Homo sapiens: one gene and its partners. The protein of the gene in region 1 purifies or fractionates together with the protein of each later gene. This does not show direct contact. Each region holds a gene or a part of one and is shown in the gene's direction. Other genes may lie near its edges.

The links.
Region 2: the proteins of HDLBP (region 1) and GTF2E2 purify together in Homo sapiens (affinity purification with mass spectrometry; 3 studies listed by BioGRID and IntAct, with this or other methods). This does not show direct contact.
Region 3: the proteins of HDLBP (region 1) and SAE1 purify together in Homo sapiens (affinity purification with mass spectrometry, with the first as the bait; 2 studies listed by BioGRID). This does not show direct contact.
Region 4: the proteins of HDLBP (region 1) and UNC45A purify together in Homo sapiens (affinity purification with mass spectrometry; 2 studies listed by BioGRID, with this or other methods). This does not show direct contact.

What each region holds. Positions count from the first base shown.
Region 1 is NC_000002.12:241,228,669-241,235,692, reverse strand, and holds part of HDLBP (vigilin), read left to right. Parts: intron 1-98; coding exon 99-203; intron 204-437; coding exon 438-572; intron 573-1,729; coding exon 1,730-1,873; intron 1,874-4,748; coding exon 4,749-4,934; intron 4,935-5,423; coding exon 5,424-5,540; intron 5,541-5,731; coding exon 5,732-5,860; intron 5,861-6,005; coding exon 6,006-6,092; 3' UTR 6,093-7,024. UniProt on the Homo sapiens protein: Appears to play a role in cell sterol metabolism. It may function to protect cells from over-accumulation of cholesterol.
Region 2 is NC_000008.11:30,648,220-30,655,243, reverse strand, and holds part of GTF2E2 (transcription initiation factor IIE subunit beta), read left to right. Parts: intron 1-59; exon of another isoform or gene 60-168; intron 169-1,262; exon of another isoform or gene 1,263-1,541; intron 1,542-1,641; 5' UTR 1,642-1,645; coding exon 1,646-1,811; intron 1,812-7,024. UniProt on the Homo sapiens protein: Recruits TFIIH to the initiation complex and stimulates the RNA polymerase II C-terminal domain kinase and DNA-dependent ATPase activities of TFIIH. Both TFIIH and TFIIE are required for promoter clearance by RNA polymerase.
Region 3 is NC_000019.10:47,196,832-47,203,855, forward strand, and holds part of SAE1 (SUMO-activating enzyme subunit 1), read left to right. Parts: intron 1-401; coding exon 402-546; intron 547-6,839; coding exon 6,840-6,909; intron 6,910-7,024. UniProt on the Homo sapiens protein: The heterodimer acts as an E1 ligase for SUMO1, SUMO2, SUMO3, and probably SUMO4. It mediates ATP-dependent activation of SUMO proteins followed by formation of a thioester bond between a SUMO protein and a conserved active site cysteine residue on UBA2/SAE2.
Region 4 is NC_000015.10:90,938,279-90,945,302, forward strand, and holds part of UNC45A (protein unc-45 homolog A), read left to right. Parts: intron 1-1,452; coding exon 1,453-1,545; intron 1,546-2,027; coding exon 2,028-2,195; intron 2,196-4,158; coding exon 4,159-4,327; intron 4,328-4,633; coding exon 4,634-4,804; intron 4,805-6,613; coding exon 6,614-6,785; intron 6,786-7,024.

The sequences.
Region 1 (7,024 bases):
GGCTGTTTGCCTTGTGTTTCGTGGAGCCCCATTGCTGAGCTTACAACGTCACTCTGCTCTCAGCTCCCACGGCCTAACCATGACCATCCTCCCTGCAGGCATTGGTTCCTGTCACCATTGAAGTAGAGGTGCCCTTTGACCTTCACCGTTACGTTATTGGGCAGAAAGGAAGTGGGATCCGCAAGATGATGGATGAGTTTGAGGTAGACCCCTTTCCCGGGAGGCCATGTCACAGGAGTGGCCTGTCGCATCCTCTCCCGAGTGCCAGTGTCCTTTCTCAACTTCCTGTTGACTCTGCCTCCTCCTGCTCGGACTGGGCACTGACTTCCCTTCACGGCGGGTGGCCTTCCCTCTCACCACTTCTGGGTCCCAGGGCCAATGGACTCTTTCCTGTTCTCTGGGGTCCTGAACGTCAAGTCAGCCCCCTCTTCACGTAGGTGAACATACATGTCCCGGCACCTGAGCTGCAGTCTGACATCATCGCCATCACGGGCCTCGCTGCAAATTTGGACCGGGCCAAGGCTGGACTGCTGGAGCGTGTGAAGGAGCTACAGGCCGAGCAGGAGGACCGGGTGAGCAGGAGGTGGCCGGGGCACTGCCCAGAGCCATGGTGCTCAGCTTTGGGCACATGTCAGAATCTAGGGAAGTTCTTCAGGATCCCAGCATCCCAGCGACATCTGGCTGGAGGTGAGATGCAGGCAGTGCCAGGACGCAGTCAGCATCCAGGGGTCTTGCTGTGGAACTAGCCAAGAGCATGGCACCTTTCTCTTTTTCATAAAAAAGTGACAAAGTTGGACTTCCGTGTAAATTTGCAGTTTCTCTCAAAACCAAATCAGAGTGGTACCTCAGACCTACAAGAAAGGTCAAGGTTGCGAGAGGCCCCCAAGCATGTGCTATGCAGTGAGGACGAGCATCGGGGACCCCCACTAACCTCTAGCACAGGGTGGTCAAAGGGCGAATGACTTCCTGGTAAGCAGGGATGAAACCCCCCCAACCTCTGGCAAGGCTGACGTTTGAAGGATTGTATGAGCGGAGCGCTGCAGACGCCCAGCCTCTGGCAGGGCTGACATTTGGAGGATTGTGTGAGCAGAGTGCTGCAGACAGGAGCAGGGGTTCTGGAACTTGGAGCAGACTGTGCTGGGGTGCTGGTTTGCTAAGGGGGTTGGCTTTCCACTCCTCCCGTGAGCACGTCGAGTCTGGTGAATGGGGTGGAGCTCGTGAACCTCACATGGTGTCAGTGTACCCCTGCGTGGACTCTGGGTTGTCTCCTGCAGCCAGGTCATACCTGTAGCCTTTGGCCATGGGTGTTCAGGGGCTGTGGCTGCCCCCTCTTCTTGGTCTGCATCTGCCCCAGTCCTAAAAAGATCCAGAGCATTTCTGTGCGTATCCATCAGATCCCTGTTTGACAAATGAGGAGAGCGGGGCCCCAAGCTCGTGACTCACTGCCTAGCTCTGTCAGTTCCTGAGCACGATCCTCGCAAGTGGTCCCAAGCCCTCTTTTGAAGGATTTATAGACCTCCTTGTGGAGCAGCCAAGTTCCCTGGTTCTCATTATTAGCAGATAATGGAAGGTGGCAGAGGTCGGACCAGAGAGATGGCGGACCATTCCGGACCACGGGTTACAGAACACTGCAGCATCTCCAGTGTCCTATGACCAGGGTGGAAGGGGAATGGAGTCACAGGGTGGATCAGCTCAATCTTTGCCTCATTCTTGCTCCTTTCATTTGTAGGCTTTAAGGAGTTTTAAGCTGAGTGTCACTGTAGACCCCAAATACCATCCCAAGATTATCGGGAGAAAGGGGGCAGTAATTACCCAAATCCGGTTGGAGCATGACGTGAACATCCAGTTTCCTGATAAGGACGATGGGAACCAGGTGAGAGCCTCGGTTGGAGCGTGTCGGGGGCAGAGGTGCTTGTTGACCTTTCCTGTGACTTGGGAGCAGTAACCAGATGTGCCTAGATGGGGGTTCGAGGGCCAAGTTGAGAGTGGCAAGTCTCTCAGGACCTAATTCTGGCTTGAGGTTTGGGCTGTGTCTCGGTACTTGCCAGATGGGTGAGGTCTCTGGCACTATGTATCATCTGGGGCCTGGAGCATTTTCTCCTGCGTCTCCTTCCAGAAAATGAGCAGGAGCTCCAGCTGGGTCCTTGATCAGTGGCGCCTCCAGGTGTAGCTCATTCACCTGTCACCCGGGCCTCTCTGAGGCTCCCAAGGGCTCTCATTCACCTGTCACCTGGGCCTCTTGGGGTCAGGTGGACATTTCTCTGCAGCCCCAGCTGCAAACACCGTTGTGCTTGCCAGATGGTCCTTAGTAAACTCTTGTTGTTACTTCCTCCAAATTGCAGTGCCACCCCCCTGCCACTGGCCCTCATGGCCTCCTGCTTCACTCAGAACAAAATGAAAGGCAGCCCCATCCCCTCTCTGGGCCCTGCCACCTGGCATGCAGGGCAGCCTCACCCAACACCCCCTCTTGCACACACTTCCCAGGCTTGGTCTTTCCTGGCTCTGGCATCCTGCTGGGGTGTCTGCTTCCTAGGCGTGTCCAGCACAGCTTTGCCCACAGTGGGAGACTAGCAAGCCTTGGTGGCCACAGTTGTGCTGGTTTCCAGAAACAGCAAACCCCCTGGCAGCAGAGCCCCTCCACGCCCCTCGCTCCCACTGTGGATGTGCCGCCCAGGGTTTTCCGCTGCTTCCCCTTCCCCTTCCCCTTCTTCCTCCCCAGCTTCTTGTTCCCTTTTGGATCTTTGAGTCACACACACACCAGCCAGGCCAGGAGGGCCCTCCTGCACCCTGCCTCCTCCAGCTCCCACGTCCTCTTCCCTCCCCACATACATTTTTTAATTTTTAGTCTTGATCTTGAGAGTTTAGTTCTTTTTTTTGAGAGAGATAGTCTTTGTCTTGTTGCCCCAGGTGGAGTGCAGTGGCGCGATCTCGGCTCACTGTAACCTCTGCCTCCCGGGTTGAAGTGATTCTCGTGCCTCAACCTCCCAAGTAGCTGGGACTACAGCTGTGAGCCACCGCTCCCAGCCCAAGAGTTTAGCTCTTTTAAGCCCCTCACCCTTATTGCCTTTTATTTCCCTCTACTATTCTATATAATTATCAATCTTAAAAGTCATTATAGGTGAGTCACAGTGGCTCACGCCTGTAATCCCAACACTTTTGGAGGCCGAGGCGGGTGGATCCCCTGAGGTCAGGAGTTCAAGGCCAACCTGACCAACATGGCGAAAGCCTGTCTCTACTAAAAATATGAAAATTAGCCAGGCGTGGTCGCGTGCACCTGTAATCCCAGCTACTCGGGAGACTGAGACGTGAGAATCGCTTGAACGCAGGAGGCGGAGGCTGCAGTGAGCTGAGATCATGCCATTGCACTCCAGCCTGGGCGACAGAGTGAGACTCTGTCTTTAAAAAAAAAAAAAAAAAGTCATTGTTTAGCAATTAGACTATTCCATCTAATACACCATGAGCCAAGTGGGGTGGAGCAGTCATTTCTTCACAGGCAGCTTTTTCCTGTGAGCTGTGCTTCCGATCTTGAGGTTCTGTACCTGGCAGCACGCGGGTGGTGCCTGAGGCTGTCAGCTCTGCTGGGCCACGGTGGGTGGGGCTGCTGCCTCCCACTCTGGCATTTTGCTTCAATCTGGACAGAAGCTTCTTGGGCTGCTGCTCTGTTGTCTCTAGGTTAGGTCTTTCTGCTCATTTCCTTTCCAGGCATTTGTCCCTGTCCTCTAGTCCTGTTGCGTGATGATGGTTCCGTGTTGTGATTTGTCCCTGTCCTCTAGTCCTGTTGCGTGATGGTTGTGATTTGTCCCCGTCCTCTAGTCCTGTTGCATGGTGGTTTTTGTGTTGTGGACATGTTGTTTTCGCCGATTGTGGGCTACAGGTGTTTTGTTACCACGTTTCCTTCTCTATGCCCTGAACTGTCTGCTTGGTCTGCTTGTCTGCTATCCCAAGTCTGGTATGGTGTCTCCTGTCCATTTGTGTGGCCCAAGGAAGGCCTGAGCAGGTGGGATCTCTGAGTGAGGGAGGGGCTCGCTGAGGAATGCCAGCCAGCCTCCAGCCTCCAGCACAAAGATGCCTCCAGACTGTGGCCCACGTGGGCAAAGAAGCAGGAAGCTGAGGGGCTTGGGGCTTTGTCTTTGCCCCGCTGTCCTTGAGTCCAGAATTCTTGCCTGTTAGTGTCTCTCCTTTGTCTTTGAGGACAAATGTCCTTTTTCGTTCTGTAATTCACTGTCTTTTGGGTAGAGTTTGGGAAGAGATGGAAGCTGAGTGGACATAGGTTTTTTGTGGGGTGTTTTTTTTTTGTTTTTTTTTTTTTGAGATGGAGTTTTGCTCTGTTGCCCAGGCTGGAGTGCAGTGGCGCAATCTCGGCTCACAGCAACCTCCGCCTCCCGGGTTCAAGCAATTCTCGTGCCTCAGCCCCGGGAGTAGCTGGGATTACAGGCGTGCACCACCACGCCCGGCTAATATTGTATTTTTAGTAGAGGCGGGGTTTCTCCATGTTGGTCAGGCTGGTCACGAATTCCGGACCTCAGGTGATCCGCCTGCCTCGGCCTCCCAAAGTGCTGGGATTACAGGCGTGAGCCACCGTGCCCGGCCCTGAGTGGACATTGTTAACCTCTTGTTTTAAATCAGCCGTGACGTTGCTTTCCATCTTCTCTCCTGAGCTGTTTTCCTCAGCAGTGGGGGCCGGCTCTTGCCCCTGACGGGAATCCCAGTAAGGCATCCCCTTTTCTGACTACATTCTCCTTTTTTAGCCCCAGGACCAAATTACCATCACAGGGTACGAAAAGAACACAGAAGCTGCCAGGGATGCTATACTGAGAATTGTGGGTGAACTTGAGCAGATGGTTTCTGAGGACGTCCCGCTGGACCACCGCGTTCACGCCCGCATCATTGGTGCCCGCGGCAAAGCCATTCGCAAAATCATGGACGAATTCAAGGTGAGCCGGCTGGAAGCACAGTGGGTGAGAATCCTCTCTCACCGGGGGCACCTGGCTGGCCAGAAGAAAGAGCAGGGCATGGCCTTCCCCTCAAGATGATGAGGCCACAACCCCAGGGCTGGCAGTGGAACTGTCCTCATGGACACCACGGGTCAGTGCAGGCGACGGCCTGTGTGAGGCTGCACTGCCACGGTGGCCATTAGGAGGGCATCTCCTTGACAGCTGCCTGGCGAGCTCGTCCTCTGTGGGTGGGAATTTCATGCAAGAGCGCACAGTACGTGCTGCGGCCCTCTGTCTGCTGGGAACAAGGTGCTCCTGAGATACACCTAACTTGGTGTGGTGATGAGGCTGACTGACTTCAGAACAACTCTGAAACCAGATTTTAAAACGTTTGCTAACTCAGAAAATGCTTCACTAGAAATTGACACATAATTTTAACCCTTTTCCTCGCTTGGAGTCCCCTCATCTGACGTTGTACACCCCTTCCAGGTGGACATTCGCTTCCCACAGAGCGGAGCCCCAGACCCCAACTGCGTCACTGTGACGGGGCTCCCAGAGAATGTGGAGGAAGCCATCGACCACATCCTCAATCTGGAGGAGGAATACGTGAGTCTCTGTGGGCCTTGGAGCCCTGAGGCGCCCTGGCACGTCCACCGGCCTGAGGCCCAGCCAGGAGCTTCAGGGGACAAGGTGGCACTTGTGTTTCCAGAGGCAGGCGAGGTGCAGGGGTGAGCAGGCGGGCGGGATGCTGGGGGTGCTGGGCAGACTGACCCTGTCTTCCTGTCTTCTGCCTGCAGCTAGCTGACGTGGTGGACAGTGAGGCGCTGCAGGTATACATGAAACCCCCAGCACACGAAGAGGCCAAGGCACCTTCCAGAGGCTTTGTGGTGCGGGACGCACCCTGGACCGCCAGCAGCAGTGAGAAGGTCAGATGCGGGCTTCTGCCCTCCTGGGTCCCAGGGAGGGTGGGCGGGCAGGCGGGCTTGGTGTCCTGAGGGTGGCAACTGCGTCGGAAGCTGCTTGCGAGTTGGGGAGCATCCCCTCCTGAAGCCGTGTCCTCTCTCTGCACAGGCTCCTGACATGAGCAGCTCTGAGGAATTTCCCAGCTTTGGGGCTCAGGTGGCTCCCAAGACCCTCCCTTGGGGCCCCAAACGATAATGATCAAAAAGAACAGAACCCTCTCCAGCCTGCTGACCCAAACCCAACCACACAATGGTTTGTCTCAATCTGACCCAGCGGCTGGACCCTCCGTAAATTGTTGACGCTCTTCCCCCTTCCCGAGGTCCCGCAGGGAGCCTAGCGCCTGGCTGTGTGTGCGGCCGCTCCTCCAGGCCTGGCCGTGCCCGCTCAGGACCTGCTCCACTGTTTAACACTAAACCAAGGTCATGAGCATTCGTGCTAAGATAACAGACTCCAGCTCCTGGTCCACCCGGCATGTCAGTCAGCACTCTGGCCTTCATCACGAGAGCTCCGCAGCCGTGGCTAGGATTCCACTTCCTGTGTCATGACCTCAGGAAATAAACGTCCTTGACTTTATAAAAGCCAAACGTTTGCCCTCTTCCTTTCCCACCTCCCTCCTGCCAGTTTCCCTTGGTCCAGACAGTCCTGTTTGTGGAGTGCAATCAGCCTCCTCCAGCTGCCAGAGCGCCTCAGCACAGGTGTCAGGGTGCAAGGAAGACCTGGCAATGGACAGCAGGAGGCAGGTTCCTGGAGCTGGGGGGTGACCTGAGAGGCAGAGGGTGACGGGTTCTCAGGCAGTCCTGATTTTACCTGCCGTGGGGTCTGAAAGCACCAAGGGTCCCTGCCCCTACCTCCACTGCCAGACCCTCAGCCTGAGGTCTGGTGAGTGGAGCCTGGAGGCAAGGTGGTAGGCACCATCTGGGTCCCCTGTGGCCGTCACAGTGTCTGCTGTGATTGAGATGCGCACAGGTTGGGGGAGGTAGGGCCTTACGCTTGTCCTCAGTGGGGGCAGTTTGCCTTAGATGACAGCTGGGCTCTTCTTCACACCACCTGCAGCCCCTCCCTGCCCCTGCCCTAGCTGCTGTGTGTTCAGTTGCCTTCTTTCTACCTCAGCCGGCGTGGAGTGGTCT
Region 2 (7,024 bases), on another chromosome or scaffold:
ACCTCCCTCCAAATTGGAAATTTTCTGTAGACTTTTTTTTTTTTTTTGAGACAGAGTTTTGCTGTATCCCCCAGGCTGGAGGGCAGTGGCGGGATCTCAGCTTACTGCAACCTCTGCTGGACTCAAACAGTTCTCGTGTCTCAGCGTTCTGAGTAGCCCGGACTACACGTATGTGTCACTATGACTGGCTAATTTCGTAGAGATAGGGTTTCACTATGTTGCCCAGGCTGGTCTCTCAGCCTCCCAAAGTGCTGGGATTACAGACATGAGCCACTGTGCCCGGCTCTCTGTAGACATTTCTAACAAATAGTATAATAATTCAGCCTCTTCATCACTTAATAATTGAGAGTTCACCAGTTGTAAAAATATGCCATTTTATGTATAAGCAGTTCTGATGGTTCTCTTTTTTTGCAGTGAGCCTAAATCCACCTTCTTCTAATTTCTGCCCTGTAGTCCTCATGTTTCTACAGCAGTGTTGTCCAATAGAAATATAATGGGAGTGGGAAGTGTGAGCCACACGTGTAATTAAAAATATTCTAGGCTGGGTGCAGTGGCTCATGTTTGTAATCCTAGTGCTTTGGGAGACTGAGGTAGGAGGATTGCTTGAGGCCAGGAGTTCAAGACCAGCCTGGGCAACATAGCAAGACCTTGTCTCTAAAAAGTTTTTAAAAAAATTAACTGTGTGTGGTGGCGTGTACCTGTAGTACTAGCTAGTCAGGAGGCTGAGGTGGGAGGATTGCTTGAGCCCAGGAGTTCAAGGCTACATTGAGCTATGATCACACCACTGTACTCCAGCCTGGGCAACACAGTGAGACACTGTCTCTTAATTTTTTTTTAATAGCCATATTTTAAAAGAAAAATTGGTGAAATTAATTTTAACATTTTATTTAACCCAGTATATTCAAAATAGTATCACTTCAACATGTAATTAATGTAAAATATCTCGTTAGTAATTAAATAGTTTTTTTCTTTATACTAAATCTTTGAAATCTTGTGGGTTTTTACACTTGAAAGTCCATCTCAATTTTAACTAGCCACATTTCACATGTTTAATAGGCACATGTGGCTAGTGGCTAATATATTGGACAGCACAGTTCTGGAACTTTAGGGAATAATTCTGTTTCTTTTCTTTCTTTCTTTTTTTTTTTTTTTTTTGAACAAGGGTCTTGGTCTGTCACCCAGGCTAGAGTGCAGTGGCATTATCACAGCTCACTGCAGCCTTGACCTTCCAGGCTGAAGTGATCCTCCCACTTCCGCCTCCCGAGTAGCTGGGACTGTAAGCACACATCACCATGCCTGCCTGATTTTTTGTATTTTTGTAGACAGGAGGTATTACCATGTTGTCCAGGCTGGTCTCCAACTCCTGGGCTCAGGCAGTCTGCCCACCTCGGCTTCCCAAAGTGCTTCAGCCACTATGCCTGGCCTCTTTTTTTCCTATAATGGCTAGTACAGTGCTTGGCGTGTAATAAGCGCTAATGAAATATTTCTTGAGTACTTGAATAAGTGAATAAATGCAAGTGCTAGAGAACTAATAATAAAAGGTAATTTTGTTTGGGAAGTAACTTGTTGAGATCTGTGGATTTGGAGTGCAGGTTTGAGTGACTTGAATTTGTATTAAAGACACTTATTTTTTCTTTGTAGCATTATGGATCCAAGCCTGTTGAGAGAAAGGGAGCTGTTCAAAAAACGAGCTCTTTCTACTCCTGTAGTAGAAAAACGTTCAGCATCTTCTGAGTCATCATCATCATCGTCAAAGAAGAAGAAAACAAAGGTAGAACATGGAGGATCGTCAGGCTCTAAACAAAATTCTGGTTAGTAAAATTGTTTAGGACTGTTTGGTTTTTATTCAGATTATTCAGGAGGAAACCGTTTAGTTATGGCTAGTTCATTTTTCAGTTCAGCACTCATGTTGATAGGCACTTTGTTGAATATAAAGGATGGGACAAGAGAATTTAAGCTCTTAGGATGTTAATAGTCTTGTGCTGTAGTTAAAATTTAGGTTATTACCTCTTTAAAAAAACTTTATTTAGGTTTAATTTACATACCATACAGTTCATTCATTTTAAGTTTACAGTTCAAAGATGTTTGGTAAATTTACAGAATTTTGCAGCTGTTATTACAGTCCAATTTTAGAACATTTCCATCACCCCCAGCAGATCTGATGTGCCCATTTGCAGTGACTTTTCCCATCCCTGCCCCGGAAAACCAATAATCTGCTTTCTGGCTCTGTATATTTGCCTTTTCTGGATATTTCCTATAAATGAAATTGTACAGTAAGTGGTCTTTTGTGTGTTGTTTTTTTCACTTGGCATATTTTTGAGTTCCATCCATGTAGTATGCATCAGTACTTCATTCCATTTTTATTGGTAAAGCGTATTCCATAGTATGGATATATGTACCACAGTTTGTTTATCCATTCACCAATAAACGGTTATTTGGATTATTTTCACTTTTTGGCTGTTTTGAATAGTGTTGGTATGAATATTCATGTACAAGTCTTTGTGTAGACATATCTTTTTATCTCTTTTGGATAGAGACCTAGAAGTAGATTTCTGGGTCATATGTCAAATTTATATTTAACTTGTTAAGAAACTGCTAAAATAGCTGTACCATTTTATATTTCCTCCAGCAATGTATCAGGGTTCTAGTTTTTTCTCATCCTTGCTAACGCTTGAAATTCTGTTTTTTTTTTTTTAATCATAGCTATTTCTATAGTTGTGAAGTTCTATCATTGTGGCTTTAATACGCATTTCCTTAATGAGTAATGATGTTGAACATTGTTTCATGTGCTTATTGACCATGTGTATTCCTTGGTGAAATGTCTATTCAATTTTTTTTTGCCCATAAAAAAAACTGAGGTATATTTCCTCTCTCTATTGATTTAATAATTCTTCATATATTCTGGCTACCATTCTTTGATCTGGTATACATTTGCAAATATTTTCTCCAAGCAAGTGCTTGTCATTTTATCTTCTTAATAGTGTCTTTGTATGTACAAAAGTTTTTAATTTTGATGAAGTCCACCTTACCAGTTTTTTTCTTTTATCATTTGTATTCTTGGTGTCATATCTAAGAAATCTTTGCCTGACACAGGTCATGAAAATTTTTTTCTGTGTTTTCCTCTAAGAGTTTTGTAGTTTTAGCTCCTGCATTTAGGTTTGTAGTATATTTGAGTTGATTTTTGTGTATGGATTAGCATAAGAGTCAAAATTTATCTTTTTGCGTGTTCTTATGAAGTTGTCCCAGCATCATTTTTTGAAATGATGATCTTTCCCCTGTTGAATTATATTGCGCCCTTGTTGAATATTAGTAGACCATAAATCAAAGAGTTTATTTCTGGAGTCTTAGTTTGGTTCCATTGACTTCTGTGTTTATCTTTATGCCAGTATCATTTCTCTTGAGTGCTGTAGCATTGTAATTAAGGTTTGAGACTGAGAAATGTAAGTCCATCAACTTAGTTCTTTTTTATTTCAAGAATTGTTTTAGTTTTTCTGCATAAATTTTAGGGTCAATCTATCAACATTTGCAAAAAAGCCTGCTGGGATTTCCATAGGGATTGAATTGAATCTATAAATCAATTTGGGGAAGAACTGCCATCTTAACAATATTAGATCTTCCAGTCAATGAATAGATGGCTTTTTACAAATTTTTTGTAGAGACAGGATCTTGCTCTGTTGCCCAGGCTGGTCTCAAACTCCTGGCCTCAAGCAATCTTCCTACCTCAGCCTCCCAGAGTGTTGGGATTATAGGTGTGAGTCATTACACCCAGCGGTTATTTTATTCTGATTCAATCTCACTTATGAATGAAATTGTTTTCTTTGATTTTTTTTTTTAAATTGTTCATTGCTAGTATATAGAAACAAGAGTTTTTTTTAATACATTGATCTTGTATTCTGTAACCTGACTGAACTTGTTTTTTATTTCTCGTAGTTTTTTGTGTGGTTTCCCTAGGATTTTCTATGTCAAGATTATGTCATCTGTGAATAAGAACAGTTTTCTTTCTTTCTTTCCGGTGTGAACTTTTTAATTTTTATTTATCTTGCCTGTCTGGACTGGCTGTACATTGAATAGTAAAAGTAGCTACCTTTGCCTTGTTCCTGATCTTAGGGGCAAAGCATTCGGTTTTTCACTCTTACGCATGATATTACTGCAGGTTTTTGTACATGCCCTTTCCAGTTGAAGAAGTTCCTTTCTATTTCTAGTTTGTTGAGAGGTGGTTTTTTTTTTTTTGAGACGGAGTCTTGCTCTGTTGCCCAGGCTGGAGTGCAGTGGCGCAATCTCAGCTCAGTGCAAGCTCCACTTCCCGGGTTCATGCTGTTCTCCTGCCTCAGCCTCCCTAGTAGCTGGGACTACAGGCACCCATCGCCATGGCTGGCTAATTTTTTTGTCTTTTTAGTAGAGATGGGGTTACACTGTTAGCCAGGATGGTCTCGATCTCCTGACCTTGTGATCCACCCGCCTTGGCCTCCCAAAGTGCTGGGATTACAGGCGTGAGCCACCGCACCCAGCCTTTTGTTTGTTTTCTTTCGAGACAGCGTCTTACTCTGTTGCCCAGGCTGGAGTACGGGCATGATCATGGCTCACTGCTGGCGTGATCATGGCTCACTGCAGCCTCGAAACTCCCCAGCTCAAGCAAGCCTCAGTCTCCCGGGTAGCTGAGACTACAAGCACATGCCCACCACATTTGGCTAATTAAAACTTTTTTTTTTTTTTTTTGGTAGAGATGGGGTTTTACTTTGTTGCCCAGGTGGGTCTCAAACTCCCCGCTTCAAGGGATCCATCCCCCTTAGCCTCCCAAAGTGCTGGGATTATAGGCATAAGCTACTGCATCTGACTGAGAGTTTTTAGTCATAAATGGGTACTGGATGTTGTCTGATGCTTTTTATGTATCTAATGAGATGAGCATGTTCTCACTCTTTAGTCTATTAATATGATATATTAACATTAATTGATATTTAGATGTTCAAACAACCTTGCATTTATTCCTGAAATAAATCCTACTTGGTTATGGTGTATAATCATTTTTATTTGTTGTGGTACTCAATTTGCTGGTATTTCGGTCAGGATTTTTGCATCTCTATTCCTGAGGGACTTGATGTGTATGTAGTTTCGTTTTTCTCTGGTGCCTCTCAGGGTAATTCTGGCCTCCTTAAACGATTTGTGAAGTGCTCCCTTTTCACCTATTTTCTGAAAGAGTTTGTGAAACTTTGTTATTTTTTAAAATGTTTGATAGAATTCACTGGTGAAGCCATTTGGGCTTCAGCTTTCCTTTGTGGAAAGCTCTTTGTAAGAATTTTTTCTTTTCAGTTTACTCAGATTTTCTATTTCTTTTTGAGTTACTTTTGGTACTTTGTGGCTTTTTAGAAGTTTATTCATTCATCATTTACATTGTCTGAGGTTTTTCAAAGTACTCCCTTATAATCCTTTTGATATCTATAAAGTCAGTAGTGATATCCCCTCTCATTTTTTTTGAGACGGAGTCTTGCTCTGTCTCTCAGGCCCCCCAGAGTAGCCGGGATTACAGGTGTGTGCCACCACGCTCAGCTAATTTTTGTATTTTTAGTAGAGACAGGGTTTTGCCATGTTGGTCAGGCTAGTCTTGAGCTCCTGACCTCAGGTGATCTGCCTGCCTCAGCTTCCCAAAGTGCTGGGATTACAGGCCTGAGCCACCTCACCCAGTGTCCTCTTTCATTTCTGATTTTAGGAATTTGTCTTTTCTCCCTTTTTTCTTGATGAGTCTAGCTAAAGGTTCATCAATTTTGTTGATTTTTTTCAAAGAACCAACCTTTGGTTTCATTGGCTTTTCTGTTTTGGTTTTTGTTTGTTTGTTTGTTTGTTTTTATTTCCACATCAGTATTTATTATTTCCTTCCTTCTGCTTGCTTTGGGTTTAGTTTACTCTTACATTATTATCTTTTAAACAATGTCAGTGGAACTTAATTCACAGCTGAAATTATTTAGCTACTTCAAATTGTAGCAATAATAATTTTTATTGATGTTAATTTTTTACACATCCTACAAGCTGTTTTATAACTGATTTGGAAGCAAAGCTTTTTTAAAAATCAAAGTAGGCCTGTCATTCTTATAATATATATTAGGTTTATATGTCGTTCCAATGAAATGTACATAGAATTAACTCATCATAAACAAAAATGTAAAAACTGTTTTAAACATTAACATAGCCACTCTCAGGCTTAAGCCACTTGAGCCTTTGACCTGCTCAAGAATGTCTTTGCATTTTGTAGTTTAGGCTACAGGTATTGGGTAGCGAATTTCATCTTCCCCACAAACAGGTCCCATTCGACAGCAGGAAGAGCCCTTGTAGGGTTTTACTTCTCTTTGGTTGGCCAGGGTTTTCCCTAACAGTCAGGGTAGGATAAACTGTGTTGTGGTAACAATCCCAAAAATCTCAGTTTCTTAAAACAACAGAAGCTTGTTTCTCCTTCATACTACATGTTTATCATGGATTGGTAGAAGTCTTAGCTAGTTATAGTCACTCAAGGACCCAGGCTGGCAGAGCAGCTGGAAGCTCAAATGTTTGTGAGTTCTGTGCTAGCAGGAAAACTAACTCTGGAAGAGCTTGCACTAGCAGTTAAGTGCTGTGGCCTGAAGGTGACACATGTCACATCCTCTCACAGCTCATTGGCCAGAGTTAGTCACAAGTCACTCATTGGCCAAAGTTATGTTCCCAGCCATAGGGGGCTCTGAAGTGAATGCTTTCCTTAATGAAGAGAGCTGGAAATATTGGGTGTAACAACTAAAGGCTACCATGCCACTCTAGTTCAGGCCACGGTCATTGGATTGCTAGGTTAGCTGTTGACCAGGTCTCCTGGTTTAGCTGCTTTAGTGTTCATTCTTCATACAGCTGTGATTTTTCTCATTAGATCATGTTGCTTTCAGCTCAAGCTGATTGTTACTGTTTTTCAGATAAAGTCCATGTTTTACTGCAGCCTGCGTGCCTGCCTCATCTGGCCTCTAATTATCTCTTAGGTGTGGTATCATACTGTTCTCCTTGTACTCTGTCC
Region 3 (7,024 bases), on another chromosome or scaffold:
AAGGTAAATTGCTTTTATAATTATTGGATTGCCTCTCTGACTATGTTTGTTGAATAAATAAAAAAAGGTGGCCAGGTGCCGTGGCTCACACCTGTAATCCCAGCACTTTGGGAGGCCGAGGCGGGCGGATCACGAGGTCAGGAGTTTGAGACAAGCCTGACCAACATGGTGAAAACCCGTCTCTACTAAATATACAAAAATTAGCCAGGCATGGTGGTTCGTGCCTGTAGTCCTAGCTACTCAGGAGGCTGAGGCAGAAGAATCACTTGAACCCGGGAGGCAGAGGTTGCAGTGAGCCAAGATTGTGCCATTGCACTCCAGCCTGGGCGACAGTGTGAGCCTCCATCTCCAAAAAAAAAAAAAAGTGGCTTTATAACCTGCCTTCTTTTTCTTATTCCCAGTGCTCTTAAAGTTCCGTACAGATAAAGGAAGAGATCCCAGTTCTGATACATATGAGGAAGATTCTGAGTTGTTGCTCCAGATACGAAATGATGTGCTTGACTCACTGGGTATTAGTCCTGACCTGCTTCCTGAGGACTTTGTCAGGTTGGTGTCAGTATTTATCACTGTTTAGTCTGGACAGATAAAGTTTGTTTTCAGGATTTGCCTTAATTTGACAAGCTCTTTTATTAGAAACCCTTCAGAGAGCACCCTGCCACATTCTGCTCGCTCCTGTAGACTTCTGCCTCTCCACTAGAATAGCAATATATAAAAAATAAAGAGGGGACAGATTCTGATTTTTACAATAAGTATCTTATATTCACGTGGTTCAAAATTCAAGGCAATGTAAGATCTGTAAACATTATTCTCTACCTTTTTTCACTTTATGTGATCTTGTTATCTCTTGGGGACATCTCCAGATCAGTACATAGTTTGCTCCCTCTTTTCCACAGCTCCTTAGTATTCTAGAGTGTGAAGCGATGGAGTTTATTGAACCAGTTGCCTGCTCACTCAAGTTGTGTTCAGGCTTTTCTAACTGCGTAACACTGCAGTGTGTGACCTTGTGTCGTACGTGTGCAGGTACAACTGCAGGATAATTAGGAGGAAGGGAGTTGCTGGGTCAGAAGGTTGTAATTTATCATTTGGTCAGCATTGCCACCTTGCCTCCATTGGTATCCTATCAATTCATACCCCCAGCAGCAAAACCACCCATGTTCCCAGCATCCTCTCACTTGGACACTCCATGCTTTCACCTTACGTGACTACCTTTTTGCTCTCATAAACAGGCTTAGGATTTGATTGGAGAAGACCACATAGTGACTAGGTCACAATCTCTCTCTCTCTTTTTTTTTTTTGAGACAGAGTTTTGCTCTTGTTGCCCAGGCTGGAGTGCAATGGCACAATCTCAACTCACCGCAACTTCTGCCGCCTGGGTCCAAGCGATTCTCCTAACTCAGCCTTTTGAGTAGCTGGGATTACAGGTGCCTGCCACCACGCCCAGCTAATTTTTTTTGTATTTTTAGTAGAGATGGGGTTTTCCATGTTGGCCAGGCAGGTCTTGAACTCTTGACCTCAGGTGATCCGCCTACCTTGGCCTCCCAAAGTGCTGAGATTACAGGCATGAGCCACCACGCGCTCCATCCACATCTCCTTCCAAGCAGCTCTGGGATCATGTACACACCCTAATTCCCTTTCCATGTCTTGAGAGGCTTCCTAAACTCGGCTTTGCAGTGCCTCCAGCTTGTAGCAGTGATAATGATGGCTGCAGTTTACTGAGCAGCTGTTATGTACTAGGCATCAGGTAGTAAGTAGCCAACCCAGATCCCACCCCAGGTATCATTACAGTGCTTGCTCTAGTAGCAGCATGCTACCTTGGTTTCTTATCAACAGTAAGGTCTGCCAGAGTCCCTAGTCCTTTCTTTGTTGACTTCCTGCTGGGAACTTCAGGTGAGCAACAGCAAACCCCACTCCATTTAGGGCCAGCAGTGGTCTTTGAAGCACCTGTGGTGCCCTGACCCAAAAAGCCATGATTGTCCTGGTACAGTGGCTCACACCTATAATCCCAGCACTTTGGGAGGTTGAGGCAGGCAGATTGCTTTGAGCTTAGGAGTTTGAGGCCAACCTTGACAACATGGTGAAACCCTGTCTCTACAAAAAATAGAAAAATTAACTGGGCATCGATGACTGGTGCTTGTAGTCTCAGCTACTCTGGAGGCTGAGGCTAGAGCATCGCTTGAGCCCAGGAAAGCAGAGGTTGCAGTGAACCAAGATTGCACCACTGCATTCCAGCCTGGGTGACAGAGAGAGACCGTGTCTCAATACATATAGCGTAAGGCTGGGCGCGGTGGCTCACGCCTGTAATCCCAGCACTTTGGGAGGCCGAGACAGGCAGATCATGAGGTCAGGAGATTGAGACCATCGTGGCTAACATGGTGAAACCCCATCTCTACTAAAAATACAAAAAATTAGCCAGGTGTGGTGGTGGGTGCCTAAGTCCCAGCTACTCGGGAGGCTGAGGCAGGAGAATGGCGTGAACCCGGGAGGCAGAGGTTGCAGTGAGCTGAGATCACGCCACTGCACTCCAGCCTGGGCGACAGAGCGAGAGGGAGACTCCTTCTCAAAAAAAAAAAAAAAAAAAAAAAGGCAGCAATAGAGTGGCAGTGCCTGAGCACACGAGACTGAGACATGGAAAAGCGGTTTCCCCAAAGAGGGTGGGCAGGGAAGGAACCACTTTGGAGAGAAAACCAGCCAGCAGCTCGTTAGGCTGTGGCTTTCCTCTTCTAGGAAGCAGGGCCTTCAACTCTGCTGGCCGGTGATGCAGAGCCAGACCGTTCATCACTTTGAATGCCCAAGTAGTCACTTGGCTGCACACTCACGGCCCAGCACACAGCCCCAGGTATGCTCAGTGGCTGCCGCTTGCCACTGGCTGACTGGCTGGGATTATTGGAACTGAAGCCCTGCATGACCCAGTCCTTCTTCCTGCTGCGAAGCACAGCAGAGGAAACACTTGCTTCTCACAAACTGGTCATTCCTCCACCAAGAGATGAGTGCCCCAGTGAGTTACCATGAGATCCAAGCCTGTACAGTGTCATCAGCCGCTGACCTCACGGTGCTGATGTTACAAAGGCACCTTGTAAACTGCTGCCTATGTTTAGATGATGGCTTTTTTTTTTTTTGGAGACAGAGTCTCGCTCTGTCCCCCAGGCTGGAGTGCGATGGCATGATCTTGGCTCACTGCAAGTTCCGCCTCCCGGGTTCACGCCATTCTCCTGCCTCAGCCTCCCCAGTAGCTGGGATAACAGGCGCCCGCCACCACGCCCAGCTAATTTTTTTTGTATTTTTTAGTAGAGATGTGGTTTCGCTGTGTTAGCCAGGATGGTCTTGATCTCCTGACCTCATGATCCACCTGCCTCGGCCTCCCAAAGTGTTGGGATTACAAGTGTGAGCCACCACGCCCAGCCTCTTTTTTTTTTTTTTTTTAAGATAGGGTCTCTCTCTGTTGCCTAGGCTAGAGTGCAGTGGCACATCATAGCTCACTGCAGCATCAACCTCCTGGGCTCAGGCAACACTCTCATCTCGGCCTCTTGCGTAGCTGGGACTATAGGCGTGTACTACCAAGCCTGCCTAATTTTTTTTTTTTTTTTTTTTTTTTGTATTGACAGGGTCTCACTATGTTCACCAGGCTGTTTCCTATTTTTTAAAGTTATGAACCGCATAACAAGAGAGTATACAAAGCACATCTGCCTGAGTTAAATGATAATTAATACTTATTTATTTTTGTTGTAGAGACGGGGGTCTCACTCTGCTGCCCAGGCTGTTCTCAGACTCCTGGATTCAAGCCATCCTTCTGCCTTGGCTTTCCAAAACTTCTGGGATAGACAGGCGTCAGCCACTTGTATCTCTTTTAATTTGGAATAGCCCTTGGCAAACTGGCTTGCCACCTCTTTTTGTAAATAAAGTTTTATTGGCACACTTACTCATTTATATATTATCTGTGGCAGCTTTTGTGCCACAGCAGGGTTAAATAGTTATAACAAAGACCATATGGCCCATAAAGCTGAAAATATTTTATTATCTGGTTCTTTTGTTTGTTTGTTTGTTTTTGAGACAAAGTTTCACTTTGTCACCTAGGCTAGAGTGCAGTGGCATGATCTCGGCTCACTGCAACCTCCACCTCCCGGGTTCAAGTGAATCTCCTGCCTCAGCCTCCTGAGTAGCTGGGATTACGGGCATACGCCACCATGCCCAGCTATTTTTTTTTATTTTTTTATTTTTTTTATTTTTTTTTGAGATGGAGTCTTACTCTGTCACCCAAGCTAGAGTGCAATGGCCCGATCTTGGCTCACTGCAACCTCCGCCTCTGTGCTCTGTGGTTCAAGTGATTCTTCTGTCTCAACCTCCTGAGTAGCTGGGACTACAGGCGCGTGCCACCACGCCCGGCTAATTTTTGTATTTTTAGTAGAGATGGGGTTTCACCATATTGGCCAGACTGATCTCAAACTCCTGACCTCATGATCCACCCAGCTTGGCCTCCGAAAGTGCTGGGATTACAGGCATGAGCCACTGCACCTGGCCTGTTATCTGGTTCCTTTTTTTTTTTTTTTTTTTTTTTTTTTTTGAATCAGAGTCTTGCTGTGTCACCCAGGCTGGAGTGCAGTGGCGTGATCTCGGCTTATTGCAACCTCTGCCTCCCAGCTTTAAGTGATTCTTTTGCCTCAGCCTCTGGAGTAGCTGGGACTATAGGCACGTGCCACCACGCCCAGCTAATTTCTGTATTTTTAGTAGAGACGGGGTTTCACCATATTGGCCAGACTGAACTATTCCTCCAATACGGCCAAAATGAGATTCTACCAGCAATGGGAGGAGTTTTTTTAATTATTATTATTGGGAGTCTCTCTCTCACCCAGGCTGGAGTGCAGTGGCACCATCTCGGCTCACTGCAACCTCCACCTCCTGGGTTCATGCAATTCTTCCACCTCAGCCTCCCGAGTATCTGGCATTACAGCTGCCCGCCACCACACCCGGCTAACTTTTGTATTTTAGTAGAGACGGGGTTTCACTATGTAGGTCAAGCTGGTCTTGAACTCCTGACCTCAAATGATCCACCCGCCTTGGCCTCCCAAAGTGCTGGGATTACAGATGTGAGCCACCGCACCCAGCCCTAGTTCTCCATGTATTTTAGAGCTCTGTAGTGGACCTTGATAAGCAGGAAGATGTTACCCCTGGATGAACAAAATGGGAATGTGCTGGTCCTGGCCAGGGCGTAAGGAGCCGGAGGTGCCTTTGGACACAGCTCTTGGGATTGGAATGGATACAGCCTTTTGGGAGGGCATTTTGGCAATACATATGAAAAACTAGCATTGCTATATTTAGAAATTTGTCTTAAGGAATTATTTCGACGCCTGTGTCTTTGTCAAGATGTATGATTACAGTGTTGAACAGCTTAAATGTCCCTCAATAGGTTATAGAACAGAAGAGTAATAGTTGATAATATTTGGGTTTAAAATTATACCTATTTATTTATTTATTTATTTTTTGAGACAGTCTTGCCCTGTCACCAGGCTGGAGTGTAGTTGTGCGATCTCAGCTCACTGCAACCTATGCCTCCCAGGTTCAAGCGATTCTCCTGCCTCAACCTCCTGAGTAGCTGGGACTACAGGCTCACCCCACCACACCAAGCTAATTTTTGTATTTTTAGTAGAAACGGGGTTTCACCATGTGGGCCAGGATGATCTCGATCTCTTGACTTTGTGATCCGCCCACCTCGACCTCCCAAAGTGCTGGGATTACAGGCATCAGCCACTGAGCCCGCCCTAATTATACCCGTTTAGATTGTGCACTTTTAAAAATGTCTAGAAGGGGCTGGGCGCAGTGGCTCACACCTGTAATCCCAGCGCTTTGGGAGGCCGAGGCGGGCGGATCACGAGGTCAAGAGATTGAGACCATCCTGGCCAACATGGTGAAACCCCGTCTCTACTAAAAATTCAGAGTAGCCGGGCGTGGTGGCGGGTGCCTGTAGTCTCAGCTACTCAGGAGGCTGAGGCAGGAAAATGACATGAATCCGGGAGGCGGAGCTTGCAGTAAGCCAAGATCGCGCCACTGCACTCCAGCCTGGGTGACAGAGCGAGACTCCGTCTCAAAAAAAGTCTAGAAGGATGTGCACCACACTGGGGAGATTGGAGGTAGTTCTGTAGGGAGGCTTTCCCTTTCACTTGTCTGTGTTCCAGTTTGCTTGGTGAGCACACAGCATTGTGTTCAGGAGTAGGAGCTGGCAGAGCACACTTCCTTTGGGGAAGTGGTGGAATTAAGTGATTTGCTTACTAGGATGGGTAACTTGGAGGGGCAGGTGACTGTGTCATCTAAAATTTGTCCTCTAGATGCCCCATCCTGGCCCAGAAGGGCTGGTTTCTATGTGGGTTGTGAAGACTTTTTCTGCCCTCATACTTTAATTTCACGCCTCAAATTTCCCTTGCTTCCTACATGTTAACACAGGCCTGCTCCCTGACATTTGTCTGGGAATAGCATATAGAACCCACTGGCCATTATGGGTAAGAAGAGAATTGCGAGAATGTGACCAGGGCACTGAAACATCTGATATCTCTAGGACAGATATAGGAAGCACAGATATAGTCTTTCCTTTAACTTATAAAGGTAAAAATAAAAGTATTGTGAAAGAATTTCTGCTTGCCAAAGTTCAAAGGTCTTTTCCAACCACTTATGAATCCCTTGCTCAGATTTCATTTTCACGCCTAGATGCCAGCATTAACACTGCTATCTGAATCGGGCCCTCCTGCTAGAAGTTGTTTTTATTCAGGAGAGCCTACTACTGAATTTCTCCAGATGTCATGGTCACAGTTCTGTTCCCAGTGCTCCATTTTCCTTGTCTTCCTCTCTTTTAGGTACTGCTTCTCCGAGATGGCCCCAGTGTGTGCGGTGGTTGGAGGGATTTTGGCACAGGAAATTGTGAAGGTAAAACATCACTGTGGAGCAGAAAATTGTTAACCATGACTTTGTATATGTGCTGACAGAGAGAATGGAAACTGTCTTAGACAGCTGCCTGCTTTCTCTCACCCCATTCATCTTT
Region 4 (7,024 bases), on another chromosome or scaffold:
TTAGGAGAAAAGAATCTAAAGACCATTATGAGCTACAACCAAGCTCAAATTCGCCAGATAATTTGACGTTAAAATGCTGACACAGTGGAAGCAGATAACATGATGGCAGACACCTCACTGAAATGTTGAAGCCTGGGAAAGCAAATAGGTTTCCTCTCTCAATGCCAACTCTGATTGGCAGTGGCTGCCCAGAGTCCTATGTTGAGAAGAATTAGGAAGCAGATTGCCTGAGCCAAGCAGGGGAACGTGCCATGACTGGTTAGTCATGGCTGCCATGGATGCAAGAGAGGAAGGCGGGTGGTCCACATGCTAGGCTTGTGCCACCATCTATGCCCAGGACTCTGGGGGGTGGGGGAGTAGGCCTAGGATGATCTTCCCCATTCAGATTATTTATTTATTTATTTATTTGTTTGTTTTGAGACAGTCTTATCCTGTCACCCAGGCTGGAGTGCAGTGGATCTCTGCTGACTGCAACCTCCACCTCCCAGATTCAAGCGATTCTCCTGCTTCAGCCTCCCGAGTAGCTGGGATTACAGGCACCCGCCACCACACCTGGCTAATTTTTATATTTTTAGTAGAGACGGGGTTTCACCATGTTGGCCAGGCTGGTCTCAAACTCCTGACCTCAGGTGATCTGCCCACCTCGGCCTCCCAAAGTGTTGGGATTACAGGCGTGAGCCACCGTGCCTGGCTTCAGATTTTATTTATTTATTTTTTTGAGACAGAGTTTCACAGTTATTGCCCAGGTTAGAGTGCAGTGGCGTGATCTCGGCTCACTGCAACTTCCGCATCTTGGGTTCAAGTGATTCTCCTGCCTCAGCCTCCCGAGTAGCTGGGATTACCGGCATCTGCCACCACGCCCGGCTAATTTTTTGTATTTTTAGTAGAGATGGGGTTTCACCTTGTTGGCCAGGCTAGTCTTGAACTCCTGACCTCAGGTGATCCACCTGCCTTGGCCTCCTAAAGTTTTGGGATTACAGGCGGGAGCCACTGCGCCCAGCTCAGATTATTTTTAAAACAGTGAAAAGAGAATTCTGGAGCTAAAGGAAGTGTTAGCAACTACCTCACGATCTGCCAGCTCCCTGGCAGGAGGTATAAATGCTGAGTTCAGTGCCATGGGAAGCCCATTCACGCTGCCACAATGTAGATGGCACCACTGGGAGTGGGTTGCCTCGTAGCTGACAGGATACCTCCCCTCCGAAAAGGCACTCCAGCATCGGCGCAGCCCCTGCTGCCCAAGCAGGAAATAGCTCAGAAAGAAAAACAGGTGCGGGAAATTTAGGAGGCACTGCCAGGCAAGTCTCTTCCTGCCCAGGGTAGCTAGGTGCTAGCCCTGAGCCTGGACATCTTTACTGTGCCTCCCAGAGTGAGGAGCTGGAGACAAATGAATAGGGAGTGTGATGTCTCTGGCCAAGAGCCGTGATTTGTTCCATGCTTTGTTGGTTTGTCTAGGTGCGATACATGTCCTCGACGGATGCCAAAGTGGAACAGATGTTTCAGATACTGTTGGACCCAGAAGAGAAGGGCACTGAGAAAAAGCAAAAGGTATAGGCCCTGGGCTGAGTCAGTGAGTGAGCTCCCACTAGAGCCACCCATCCATAGGCCCCCGAAGCCACTGCTGCCTTGCTCTGCCGCTCCTCCAATCGTGCAGCTGGGCTCACGGGGCCTGGATGGGAGCTCTGAGGGTCTGGGGCTTTAGCGTGAACCAAGGAAAGAGAACCAGTGTTCACAGAGTACCTTGTTGGCCACGCCCTGTGCCAGGAACTGGGTGTACAGAGGTAACTGAGGCACTGTCCCAGCCCCTCAGGCTCTGCTGGGGACTCATTTGCTCTAACCATCAATCCCGAGAGAAGGCTCTTCCCTCTATTTACAGAGGAAGCTAAACTTCAAAGAGGTTATTTTTTGGCCGTGGTCACTCAACTGTGAAGTGGAAGCAGAGAGGTCCAGGGCTCGGGGCCCCTGCTCACCAGTGCTGCATCCTATGCCGTGTGCAGTGTCAACATTATAATGTGCTTCCTTTGACGCAGGCTTCTCAGAACCTGGTGGTGCTGGCCAGGGAGGATGCTGGAGCGGAGAAGATCTTCCGGAGTAATGGGGTTCAGCTCTTGCAACGTTTACTGGACATGGGAGAGACTGACCTCATGCTGGCGGCTCTGCGTACGCTGGTTGGCATTTGCTCTGAGCATCAGTCACGGGTAGGTGGAGTGGAGAGGCTGGTTACAGCTTCAGTCCCTTTGTCTGTCTGTCCATCCATTCCTCCATCCACCCATCTGTCCATCCGCCCATCTGCCCGTCCATCCATCCATCCACTCTTCCACCCTCTACCCCTTACCTTATTCTAAAAAGAACTTAGGTAGGTTATGGTGCCTCACACCTGTAATCCCAGCACTTTGGGGGGCTGAGGCAGGTGGATCACTTGAGGTCAGGAGTTCAAGACCAGCCTGGCCAACAAGGCGAAACCCTGTCTCTACTAAAAATAAAAAAATTAGCCGGGCATGGTAGTGCACGCCTGTAATCCCAGCTACTCAGGAGGCTGAGGCACGAGACTTGCTTGAACCCAGGAGGTGGAGGTTGTGGTGAGCTGAGATCGCGCCACTGCACTCCAGCCTGGGTGACAGAGCGAGACTATCTCAGAAACAAAACAAAACAAAACAACAAAAAAAGAAAAGGCAGAGTACAAGGAGATACATGTAACAAGAGAGAAAAAATAAAAATGGCGTGAAAAAGACCAACATAAATTAGGATGAAGTGGGGTAGAAAGAGCAAAAACAGCCTTGGGGTACCCCAAGCACTTGCTTTGTAGGGGGCTTACAAGTGTGAGCCCCAGCTTTCCTGCAGCCAACTCACAAAAACACATTGGTCACTGACTCCTTCAATGTCCATATGGCACAAGCAAGCTCATGGCCCAGAATGTGCCTGGCCACCACAGCATCTACCATCGAGACAGTGACCGGACACGTAGGGCTTGATCCCGACATGATTCTCAGCATGGATGGTGGTGGCCCAGCATGGACAGTGCAGCAATAACAGTCCTGCTCCTGGGCCAGTGTGGTGAAGTCCATGCCCCCAGCTCTTACCTGAGCTGGCTTGCTCCAGGGGAGAGGGGACCAAAGACTAGGCCCTTGGTTGCTTTTAGAGGAGCCCACAATTCCTAGATAGGGGTGAAACTGTGAAATAGTCAATGAAATCTCTTTAGGCTAAGCTTGGGCTGCATTCTGGGTCTCCCAAGGCTAAGACTGTTAAAAGCATGTGCATTCTGTTCCCTCCTGCCTTCCGGTCCATTCCAGTTCACAGTCTTGGCCAAGGACACTTAGCTGCTAAGTGGAAGCAGTCAGGATTTGGGCTCAGTGGACCAAGCAGGCCTTCTAGGGTTCTCCAGCTTAGAAACAGGGTGGAGAGGGCCCGGCGCGGTGGCTCATGCCTGTAATCCCAGCACTTTGGAAGGCCGAGGCGGGCAGATCACGAGGTCAGGAGATTGAGACAATCCTGGCTAACACGGTGAAACCCCGTCTCTACTAAAAATACAAAAAATTAGCCGGGTGCGGTGGCGGGCGCCTGTAATCCCAGTTACTCAGGAGGCTGAGGCAGGGAAATGGCGTGAACCTGGGAGGTGGAGCTTGCAGTGAGCCCAGATCGCGCTACTGCACTCCAGCCTGGGCGACAGAGCAAGACTCCGTCTCAAAAAAAAAAAAAAAAAAGAAAAAAGAAAGAAACTGGGTGGAGAGGTCTCACGGGCCCATTCCGTGTACGTGACGTCCACATCCCCAGGGTGTGGAAAGAACCTCAGGGTTTAGACTGGGGAAGAACTAGACCATTAAGCCTGGTGGTCAGGTAGCTTCGTCTAGGTATAGGTCTTTTTCTTGGGGAGGCATGAGCTAAGGCAGCTGCTCCCAGGGCTGCAGTATACTATGTCTTCTCTGGCACCAAGGAGAGGTAGTAGGGCATTGCCGTGTAATGTCTCCTTTAGGAAATCTTTCTAACAAAATTATCCTGCCATTACCCTGGGTCATGCCATCCATTCTGTGTTGTTTTCACCTGGAGCTGGGCCTTCCACCCAATTCTCTCCTTCTGGCCGTATCCTCTAACTCACAGTTAGGGATCTCTGTGGCTGCCCTTCAACAACTGGAAGCTTCCTTCTGTTTACCTCTCCCACCCCAGACAGTGGCAACCCTGAGCATACTGGGAACTCGGCGAGTAGTCTCCATCCTGGGCGTGGAAAGCCAGGCTGTGTCCCTGGCTGCCTGCCACCTGCTGCAGGTTATGTTTGATGCCCTCAAGGAAGGTGTCAAAAAAGGCTTCCGAGGCAAAGAAGGTGCCATCATTGTGGGTGAGTGGAAGCAGGTCTGGGGTCTTTTGGACGTTACTGTCATGGAAGGGATGGGGCTGAGCCAGCCAGGCCAGTTTTTTGGGGACCAGACTTGCAGCTGCAGGTTGTTTGGAATACGGTTTGGTGACATTATTTTACTCTAGATTCTCAGCAACCAAGGTGCCTCAGGACAAAGCTGGAGCTCAGTCTGGAGCCTGGGATGCGGATCCCCCCTTCCCTGTGTCTCCCTGGTTTGTTGGAGAAGTTGAAGGGTCAAACTGGGCTGGGCTGCTGTGGAGCCCACTGATGTCTTCTTGTTGTTGCCAGATCCTGCCCGGGAGCTGAAGGTCCTCATCAGTAACCTCTTAGATCTGCTGACAGAGGTGGGGGTCTCTGGCCAAGGCCGAGACAATGCCCTGACCCTCCTGATTAAAGCGGTGCCCCGGAAGTCTCTCAAGGACCCCAACAACAGCCTCACCCTCTGGGTCATCGACCAAGGTAGGTGATATAGTTCACAAAAACTTGCTTCAGCAGCTGAAGTTTGTTTATTCTTAGGAGTAATAAGAAAAGTTGTGAGTGGGGCCAGGCATGGTGGATGACACACTTTGAGAGGCAGGGGGTCACTTGAAGCCGGGAGTTTGAGATCAGCCTGGGCAACATAGCGAGACCCTGTCTCTATGAAAAATTAAAAAAAATTAGCTGGGCATGGTGGTGTGCATCGGCAGTCCTAGCTACTCCAGAGGCTGAGGTGGGAGAATTACTTAACCCTGGGAAGTCAAGTCTTCAGTGAGCTGTGATTGTACCACTGCACTACAGACTGGGCAACAGAGGGAGACTGTCTCAAAAAAAAAAAAAAAAAAAAGAAAGAAAAGTTGTGATTATCTCCAGCCACGTGTCTGCACTGAAGTGCGTCCTGTGGCCCAGGAGGATGCTGGAGCTGAGAAGATCTTCCAGAGCAATGGGATTCAGCTCTTACAACACCTTCTAGACACAAGAGCTACCCTTAGGGGGCTCAAAGTTAGACTCTTCTATCATATGCGTGTGCACATACATGCACATTGAGCGGGCCTGCAAGCAGGTTAGCAGAGAGGCTGGATTAGCTTTCTGTATTTTTTTTTTTTTGAGACAGAGTCTCACTCTGTCGCCCAGGCTGGAGTGCAGTGGCGCGATCTCAGCTCACTGCAGCCTCCGTTTCCCGGGTTCAAGCAAATCTCCTGCTTTAGCCTCCCGAGTAGCTGGGATTATAGGCACGCATCAGTATGCCCGGCTAATTCTTGTAGTTGTAGTAGAGATAGAATCTCACCATGTTGGCCAGGCTGGTCTCGAACTCCTGACCTCAAACAATGCACCCACCTTGGTCTCCCAAAGTGTTGGGATTACCGTCATGAGCCATTGTGCCCTGTTTTTTTTTTTTTTTTTTTTTTTTTGTTTGAGTGAGCATGTATTACTTCTATACTCAGAGGAAAAAATAACGGTAGATATATCAATTCATCTCTCTTTTCCCCTAAAAGATAAATAAGAGCTGGGCGTGGTGCCTCACGCCTATAATCCCAGCACTTTGGGAGGCCGAGGTGGGCAGACCACAAGATCAGGAGTTTGAGACCAGCCTGGCCGACATGGTGAAACCCCGTCTCTACTAAAAGATACAAAAAATTAGCCAGGCATGCTGGCATGCACCTGTAATCCCAGCTATTCTGGAGGCTGAGGCAGGAGAATCACTTGAACTCAGGAGGCGGAGGCTGCAGTGAGCCGAGATCGCGCCATTGCTCTCCAGCCTGGGCAACAGGGCGACTCTGTCTTAAAAAAAAAAAAGATAAATAAGAAAAGCTTTGCAAAGGCCTTGCATGAGCAGGGCCTTTCACAATGGTCCTATGAGGTGTGGATATCGTGTTCACAGTGGTCCCACGAGGTGTGGGTATCGTGTTCACAGTGGTCCCACGAGGTGTGTCTATTGTGTTCACAGTGGTCCTACGAGGTGTGGGTATCGTGTTCACAATGGTCCTATGAGGTGTGGATATTCTTTTCCCCTTAGTTTTACAGATGAGGAACCTCAAAAGCTCCAGAGCGTTTGGCCCCAGGGGCAGGGCTGGCATGCAGGCCTCACTTCTGAGGTCCTTCCCGATCCTACAGCCGCCTCCCTTAGGTAGCAGATCAGCTAAGCAGATTCTCCGGGCTGCCCTGGACACAGTTGTCAGAACTCTGTAGCCTTCTTGTCTTGCTTTTCTCCACATCTCCTAGGAAGCCTGTTTCTTTTACTTGTAGGGGTTGGAACTAGTGTTCTACTGTCTAAGCGGGGTGTCTTTACAGGTCTGAAAAAGATTTTGGAAGTGGGGGGCTCTCTACAGGACCCTCCTGGGGAGCTCGCAGTGACCGCAAACAGCCGCATGAGCGCCTCTATTCTCCTCAGCAAGCTCTTTGATGACCTCAAGTGTGATGCGGAGAGGGAGAATTTCCACAGACTTTGTGAAAACTACATCAAGTAAGGAAGTCTGTTTCACCTCCCGTTGCCAGGGATTCTAGCGAAAAAGTTCTGACTCCTTGAGGAGGGGCAGAAATGAAAGGTTTCCAGCAGAAACAGTAATCTTGGGGAGGACTAGTTGGAGGCTGAACAAAGGGAAAGTGGCCCCAAGGCCCACTTCCTGCTCCAAAGTGGCCTCCGCAGGGAGGTTCTTTCTCAAGTCAATGTTCCAATAATGCAACAAACGCCATCAAGCACGT